3 separate regions of the Homo sapiens genome follow, and all the other regions are linked to region 3. The links come from fine-mapping of genetic effects on gene expression. A gene starts in region 3. Each other region holds a variant in brackets. All regions are shown on one strand. Distances are from middle to middle.

What was found. PIP is the estimated chance that this variant, and not a neighbour inherited with it, causes the effect.
Region 1: its variant is the best candidate, but not a certain one, in a credible set for the expression of CTSF in esophagus muscle (GTEx, PIP 0.50).
Region 2: its variant is the best candidate, but not a certain one, in a credible set for the expression of CTSF in whole blood (INTERVAL, PIP 0.81).

What each region holds. Positions count from the first base shown.
Region 1 is chr11:66,488,878-66,491,633 of GRCh38, forward strand. It overlaps DPP3 (dipeptidyl peptidase 3), which reads left to right. Exons shown (of 18, transcript NM_130443.4): 7 at 2,376-2,506; 8 at 2,617-2,747. Among named protein-coding and RNA genes, the nearest start is that of DPP3, 9.8 kb to the left of the region's middle. RefSeq lists an enhancer at 2,042-2,756. The variant A/G (reference allele first, on the strand shown) is at 1,658.
Region 2 is chr11:66,532,595-66,535,350 of GRCh38, forward strand. BBS1 (Bardet-Biedl syndrome 1) reads left to right here. Exons shown (of 17, transcript NM_024649.5): 17 at 1-1,004. It also overlaps a transcript of ZDHHC24 not described here. Among named protein-coding and RNA genes, the nearest start is that of ZDHHC24, 12 kb to the right of the region's middle. The variant G/A (reference allele first, on the strand shown) is at 1,670.
Region 3 is chr11:66,567,306-66,570,023 of GRCh38, forward strand. CTSF (cathepsin F) reads right to left here and starts at 1,301. Exons shown (of 13, transcript NM_003793.4): 1 at 969-1,301; 2 at 679-777; 3 at 139-357; 4 at 1-16. The coding sequence starts at 1,181. RefSeq lists a silencer at 1,350-1,419.

The DNA of each region.
Region 1 (2,756 bases), 78 kb before region 3:
GTCTTGCTGTATCGCCCAGGCTGGAGTGCCCAGGCTAGAGTGCAGTGGTGCGACCTTGGTTCACCGCAACCTCTGCCTCCCGGGTTCAAGCAATTCTCCTGCCTCAGCCTCCCCAGTAGCTGGGATTGCAGGTGCCCATCACCATACCTGGCTAATTTTTGTATTTTTAGTAGAGATGAGATTTCGCCATTTGGCCAGGCTGGTCCTGAACTCCTGACCTCAGGTGATCCGCGTGCCTCTCGGCCTCCCAGTGTGCTGGATTATAGGCGTGAGCCACCGCGCCTGGCCCCTGTCCAGGTCTTTGCACAATCCATTCCCTGCTTCTCATGCGGAACCCCCTCCAGCCTCTCCTTGTCCCCTGGCCACCTCCTCCCCATCCTCTAGGCCATGCATGGACTTGCCTTCCCCAGGACCTTTCCCTATCTTCCCATAACTGAGTCTGTGCCCTTCTTTCTTCCCATCGGCACATTCAGTAGCTTCCCTGACTACAAGCTCCCCGAGAGGAGGGCCTGTGTGTTTCATCCACTGTTGTCTCCCTGGTGCCTAGCGCTTGGTGGATCCGAGCATCCACTGGGGAGATGATGGCAGATGTGGGTTCAGAGGAACAGGAGTGGATCTCACTGGAACATAAGCTGGGCCTATACTTAGAGTACAAGATGCAGTTTCGGGCAGTGGTTGAATGTGGCCCTGGAGCCGGACTGCCCGAGTGGGTCATAATCTATTGCTGTGGAACAAATGCTCCGCAAATTTAGTGATACAAAACCACCTTTTCATGCTCATGGACTCTGGGTCAGGAATGCAGGTGGAGCACAGTAGGAACAGCCGGTCGCTGGGTGACCATGTCTGGGGCCTCAGCTGGGAAGACGACAGCTTGGGGCCGCAAGCATCCCCAGGCTTGTTGACTCACACGCAGGTGCTGGCTGCCGGCTGGAACCCAGCTGGGCTGTTGACTAAAATACCTCATGTGGCACCCTCCTATTGTTCGTGGTAGCTGGGCTCCAAGAGTGAGCATCCCAGGAGAGCCAGGCAGAAGCCTGCTCACCTTGTGTGACCTGGCCTAAGCACATGGTGTCCCTGCTGCTGAAGTCACAGCCTTCCTGGCTTCAGGAGGAGGGAACACAGATCCCACATCTCCATGGGCAAAGTCACAGTTGAGCTGGATATGATGGCTCACACCTGTAATCCCAGCTACTCAGGAGGCTGAGCCAGGAGGATCGCTTGAGCCCAGGAGTCTGAGATCAACTGGGCAACCTTACAAGATCCTATCTAAAAAAAAAAAAAAAAAAAAAAAAAAAAGGCAGTAAGACAGGAAATACTGTGGCTATTTTTGCTTGTTTGTTTGTTTTTACATAGCCTTGAAGTATATTTTATTGATCAGAGACAACAAGGAAAATACAGTAGTGTGTAAGCATCCCATTGCTTCTGTAACAAATTACCACAAATTTACTGGCACAAAACAACACAAACTTATTCTATTACAGTTGTGGAGGTCCAGAGTCTAAAAGCAAGGCTGGGCCGCATTCCTTCTGGAGTCTCAGGAAGAACCTGCTTCCTTGCCTTTTCCAGCTTCTGGAAGGCTGTCCAGCCCCCCAACTTCACTCCAGCTCCCCTCTGCTATCGTCACAGCTCCTCCTCCCAGTCACCCTCTTGTCTCCCC[A/G]TGGGACTGTCGATTACATTTGGGATGTGGCTGTCTTTTTAAATCCAGTCTGCCACTTGCTATCCACTTAAGCTCTCGGTGCCTTAGTTTCCCATCGGTGAAATGGAAATGATAATGTCCGCCTCCTCCCAGAGTTGGAGTCAGGCTTAAAGGAGTTAACACACGGAAAGCACATGTTATGTGATACATATATTTTTGTTTTTTAGTTTTGGGGTTTTGTTTTGTTTTTTTTGTTTTGTTTTTTTTTTTTTTGAGATGGAGTCTCTTCTCTGTTGCCCAGGCTGGAGTGCAGCAGCACGATCTCAGCTCACTGCAACCACTGTCTCCCGGGTTCAAGCGATTCTCTTGCCTCAGCCTCCCGAGTAGCTGGCATGACAGGCACCTACCACCATGCCCAGCTAATTTTGTATTTTGAGTAGAGACAGGGTTTCACCATGTTGGCCAGACTGGTCACGAACTTCAGACCTCAGGCGATCTGCCCGTCTCAGCCTCCCAAAGTGCTGGGATTACAGGCGTAAGCCACCATGCCCGGCTGATATATATTTTTTTGAAGTTGAGAGTTTATGCTCATGTCTGTTGGCTACAGGGAGCCATTGAAAATCTTAGAGTGAAAGAGTGCTATGGGGAAAAGCCGGCTGAGGTGTCTTACTCAGGCCTTTTCTCTGAGTGAGGCCTCTTACTCCAGCCTTTTCTCTTGAATGACACCTTCTTTCCCCAGAGCCTTCCCTGGACTCTGAGGTGACTTCCAAGCTGAAGAGCTATGAATTCCGGGGAAGCCCTTTCCAGGTGACCCGGGGGGACTACGCGCCCATCCTCCAGAAGGTGGTGGAGCAGCTGGAGAAAGCCAAGGTTGGACTGGCTGGGGGCTGAGGGGTGCGGGCTGAGGACCCCTCTGGGCAGCAGAGCGGGTGTGGAGGTGGGTGGGTGGCCCGAGGCTGACCGACCCCCGCTCACCTCAGGCCTATGCAGCCAACAGCCACCAGGGGCAGATGCTGGCCCAGTATATAGAGAGCTTCACCCAGGGCTCCATCGAGGCCCACAAGAGGGGCTCCCGCTTCTGGATCCAGGACAAAGGCCCCATCGTGGAGAGGTGAGGCGC
Region 2 (2,756 bases), 35 kb before region 3:
GCCCTCCTCTCCCCAGGAAACTTCTCTGAAATCTTAGACTTAGCCAGTCTTAGGCCTACGATGCCACACAAAGGTTGTTCAGGGAGAAGGGGGTGCAGGAGGCAGAGGGTGCCCCGCAGGGAGCTGGTGGCTCCAGCCCCACTAGAGCTCCTAAAGATCACACAGCAGCTGCTCCTGACAGGGATGCTCATGCCCAGAAAGCAAGCCCAGGAGAGGAAGGCAGAGTGTGACAGAGCAGAGCCAGGGCCAGGCGCACCAGGAGAGGCGTTTCTGGGGCTCCAGAGAAGTGCCACGGGAGGCAGAAGTCCAGAACTGCCCATATAGATGCCCTTCTACATCCTGGAGCCCAAATCAGTCATGTGGGTGGGAAGTTCCCAGGGCAGTGGTCACATCGTGAGAATTAGCAGGAAAGGCGGGGCCTTTCTTGTCATAGCTATTTCTGAGGATGAAATGGGAGACATATGCCCAGCACCTGATGTAAGTTTATATAATGTAATATTATGTACCTACCACTAAGAAATACATGAACCGTGCCATGAGGACAGTAAGTGTTCATAAAGCAACATGAAGCAAGAAACAGTGCAGGGTGCCCAGTGCACACACTAGAGAGAAATTGTGAACATTAAGGACAAGGAGAATTGGTGTCTTTCTAAAACATACTTATTTAAAAACACATACCCACTTACTAATGTGGAATTACACAGTTTGTAACAAGAAAACAGTCTCTCCCATTCTCTAGTACTGCTCCCCTACCCAGCAGTCACTTCCAGTTCATTCAGCTATTTTTAAAATGTGCTTATATGACTCTTGCTTGATATATCAATCTTAGACATTACCTGTTGACTCCCTGTTGTCATACATGAGGCTTTAGCTCTCTTTTGTCAGCAACCCTCCCCCATCCCTAGTTATTAGGTTAAAAAATACTCAGATTACTATTTCTATTACTATGTGAAAGTTAACTGCGGAGCCAAGAGTTGGACTATAATTAAATTACCTTCCTTGTACTTTCTTTTTAATGGAGTTAATGAGTTGCCCTGAGTTTCTCATTTACTTTGTTTTCTGATGGACTGATTGCTAATTCTTCCCCCACCATCTGACAGCTCCTCTTTTTTCTAGACACTTCCCTTCATCCCCTGCTTCACTGAGGACTGTTTGTTTTCCAGGTAAATTGCCTTTGCCTCTCTCCTGGGCTAGATCCTGATTCCTGGGCCTGATGGCTTCCTATTTCTCAGTTCACCCTCATTTGGTGAAACATATCCTCAAATATCTTCTTTAAAAAGTCATGGCCAGAAGGCTGGGCACTGTGGCTCACGCCTGTAATCCCAGCACTTTGGGAGGCCGGGGCAGGCGGACCACCTGAGGTCAGGAGTTTGAGACCAGCCCGGCCAACATGGTGAAACCCTGTCTCTACTAAAAATACAAAAATTAGCCAGGCGTGGTGGCAGACACCTGTAGTTCCAGCTACTTGGGAGGCTGAGGCAGGAGAATCGCTTGAACCCGGGAGGCGGAGGTTGCAGTGAGCTGAGATTGTGCCACTGCACTCCAGCCTGGGCAAAACGAGCGAAACTGGCTGGGCGTGGTAGCTCACACGTGTAATCCCAGCACTTTGGGAGGCCGAGGCAGGCAGATCACAAGGCCAGGAGTTCGAGACCAGCCTGGCCAACATGGT[G/A]AAACCCCATCTCTACTAAAAATACAAAAACTAGCCAGGCATGGTGGCAGGCGCGTGTAATCCCAGCTACTTGGAAGGCTGAGGCAGGAGAATTGCTTGAAACAGGAAGGTGGAGGTTGTAGTGAGCCAAGATCGCGCCACTACACCACTCTAGCCTGGGCAAGAGCGAAACTCTGTCTCAAAAAAAAAAAAAAAAAAAAAAAAAAGCGAAACTCTGTCTCAAAAGAAAAGAAAAAAAAAAAAGTCACTAGAGGCCGGGTATAGTGGTTCACACTTGTAATCCCAGCCCTTTGAGAAGCCAAGGCAGGAGGATCGCTTGAACCCATAAGCTGGAGACCAGCCTGTGCAACATGGTGAGACCCTGTCCCTACCAAAAAAAATAAAGTCATTAGAGTTTTTAAAGATTTTTTTCATTTATTTTATTTTATTTTATTTTATTATTTGTTTTTTGAGACGGAGTCTCACTGTGTCGCCCAGGCTGGAGTGCAGTGGCGCGGTCTCGGCTCGCTGCAAGCATCACCTCCCAGGTTCACACCATTCTCTTGCCTCAGCCTCCCGAGTAGCTGGGACTACAGGCGCCTGCCACCATGCCCGGCTAATTTTTCGTATTTTTAGTAGAAACAGCGTTTCACCGTGTTAGCCAGAATGGTCTCGATCTCCTCACCTCGTGATCTGCTAGAGTGTGCTGGCGTGATCTCGGCTCACTGCAACCTCTGCCTCCCGGGCTCAAGTGATTCTCCTCCATCAGACTCCCGAGTAGCTGGGATTACAGGCATGCACCACTGCACCTGGCTAATTTTTGTATTTTTAGTAGAGACAGGGTTTTACCATGTTGGCCAAGCTGGCCTTGAATTCCTGACCTCAGGTGATCCGCCTGCCTCAGCCTCCCAAAGTGCTGGGATTACAGGCATGAGCCACCACACCTGGCCTGGACACAACTTTTGTTTTTGTTTTAGTTTTTTTGAGACAGAGTCTAGCTCTTGTCACCCAGGCTGGAGTGCAGAAGCACGGTCACAGCTCACTGCAGCCTCGACCTGCTGAGCTCAAGCCATCGTCCCACCTCAGCCCACCCCCATCCCCCACACTA
Region 3 (2,718 bases):
TCTTCACAGGCAAGTCCTGGATAGGCAGACCAGTCTTTAGGCTGACCAGAGAAACCCACTCCAGAGGGAAGGGAGAAGGGTGATGAGGCAGCGGCTGGCTCCTCAAGCTGAGGGCTCCTCAAGCTGAGGGCTCCTCACCTGGGACAGGGGATCCTCATTCAACAGGGAAATGACTGAGCTGAAAGTCTCGTTTCTGTTGTCTGGATGGTTTTGGGACAGAGAAGAAATCATGGCTGAGCCCTGAGTGAAGGCTGACTTGGGCTCCCCAGCACCTGGAACCTTGGTGTCCACTGGGCCACAGTCCTTCCGCAGCAGCACGTGTCTTCCGAGCTCATCCAGGACTTGGAAGCTGCAGAGCTGGAGGGAGAGGAAGAAGCTGCTCTGGGGGCCTGGATCTGGATCTGGGGAGCAAGATCTGGCCAAGATGGAGCTGGAGGCTCCTCAGATGAGAGCCACCCCTAAGGCAATCACCCCATCACAGTGGACAGTGAGGCACGGCCTGCACCGGGGCATCCTCCCCTTCATAGCATCTTGGTTTCCAGCCCTCGGGGCCTGGGAAGTGGCTCAAGGTGGGGCAGCAGCTACCTCAGATCCCTGCGTCTTGACCTGACCCGTCATCATCCAACTGCTGCTTTACTCGGCCTCGGGGCGGGGAACCCCAAGAGCCTCATCACTCACCAGGGTTTTCTTGGACACGGGGAGCCGGCACACCATGGGGTCGTTGCAGGGTGGCTCCTCCAGGGTGGCCTCCAGGGAGTACAGCGACCCCTGACCCGCCTGGAGAGAGGAGTAGGTGAGGCGGGCACAGTCGGCCCTTGACGGCGCCCAAGGCCCCGCCCGTGCGGCGCTGCCCATTCCCCATCACCAGAGATCGGTTCGTCCAGCGGGCAGGCCCCATCCCAATGTTAGGTCAAAGCTCCTATCCCTTGGACCCGGGCCTGGCGCCCCCGCCCCCGGCGCGTCCTCACCCGGCGGACGCGGCCGCGCACAAGGCCCAGCACGGCCCGCGTCCCCGCAGCCCGGCCGCGGTTGAACATCTCCAGCGCGAAGCGGGTGGGCGCCAGCAGCTCCGGGGACGGCGGCCCCCAGGCCTGAAAGCTGGCGGCTCGGGGCTGGGCGGGGGCGGCCACTGCGCCCGGGAGCAGCCCCAGCAGCGACAGGAGCTGCAGCCAGGGCGCCATGGCGAGGGCGAAGCCGGCGGCCCGGACCCAACAGACGCTCCACCGACCCACCGGGTACCGAGCCCGCGGCCAGCGGGGCCTGAGTCCTCCCTCCAGCGGGGCGACGGCACGCCGACCAATGGGCGCTGGTTTGCGGCGCCTGCGCGTTCTCTTGTTTACAGGAGGCACGTGGGGCGCGCAGGGTAGGGAGAGCGGGAGGCTGCTGGCCTGAGGCTAAAGCTAGTCACTGACCTCTATCACGTGCTTGTTATATGTTAGGCATGATATGCCAGCTCCTTTTATTCGGCGTAGCAATCTCTGAAGTAGGTGCTATCCCCATCGTACAGTGGAGGAAACGAGGCTTGGAGAGATTAAATGGCGTGGCCGGGCTCTGTGACTCAGCCCTGTAATCCCAGCACTTTAGGAGGCCAAAGCGGGTGGATCACCTGAGGTCAGGAGTTTGAGACCAGTCTGGCACACGTGGTGAAACCCTGTGTCTACTAAAAATACAAAAAAGAGCTGGGCGTGGTGGTGGGCGCCTGTAATCCCAGCTACTTGGGAGGCTGAGCCAGGAGAATCACTTGAACCCAGGAGGCAGAGGTTGCAGTGAGCTCAGATCGTGCCATTGCACTCCAGCCCAGGCGACAAGAGCAAAACTCCGTCTCAAAAAAGAGAGAGAGAGAAATATTAAGTGGCTTGCCAAATATCTGGTAAGGAATTGAGCTAAACTTAAATCCAGGCAGTTGGCTTCTGAGCCTGGGTTTGCAGCTTGATCGCCTCTTTCAGGCCCCTCTTCTCAACAGCGAGATGGCAGGTAATTTTTTGAGTGCTGGCAGCGTCTCAGGCTGTTGTGAGGTTCAAATGCAATCATGCAAGCATTCAGTAGCCACTAAGGCAGGGTGCACAGGGTTGAGACTGTCCCTTGAAGCATTCACCTGCTGTGTTCCAGGGTCTACCAAGGGAAAGCATGCACAGATGCATTACAGGAATAGTGCTGCGTTCTTGGAGCTCACAGTCTAGAGAGAAGAACGACAGATGGGCTGGGTGCAGTGTCTCACGCCTGTAATCCCAGCACTTTGGGAGGCCGAGGCGGGCAGATCACCTGAGCTCAGGAGTTCGAGACCAGTCTGGCCAACGAGGTGAAACCCCGTCACTACTAAAAATATTTTTAGGCCGGGCGCAGTGGCTCACGCCTGTAATCCCAGCACTTTGGGAGGCCAAGGTGGGCGGATCACGAGGTCAGGAGATGGAGACCATCCTGGACAACATGGTGAAACCCTGTCTCTACTAAAAATACAAAAAAATTAGCTGGGCATGGTGGCACGTGCCTGTAATCCCAGCTACTCAGGAGGCTGAGGCAGGAGAATCGCTTGAACCAGGGAGTCAGAGGTTGCAGTGAGCTGAGAGCGCACCATTGCACTCCAGCCTGGTAAGACAGTGAGACTCCATCTCAAAAAAAAAAAAAAATTGAAACTGCCTTTGCAAAATTATGACAGTAAGAGAAATCTGACATGGCTGACTGCATCTTGCTTTCTAGCCTCACAGGCTGGCTGTCTTC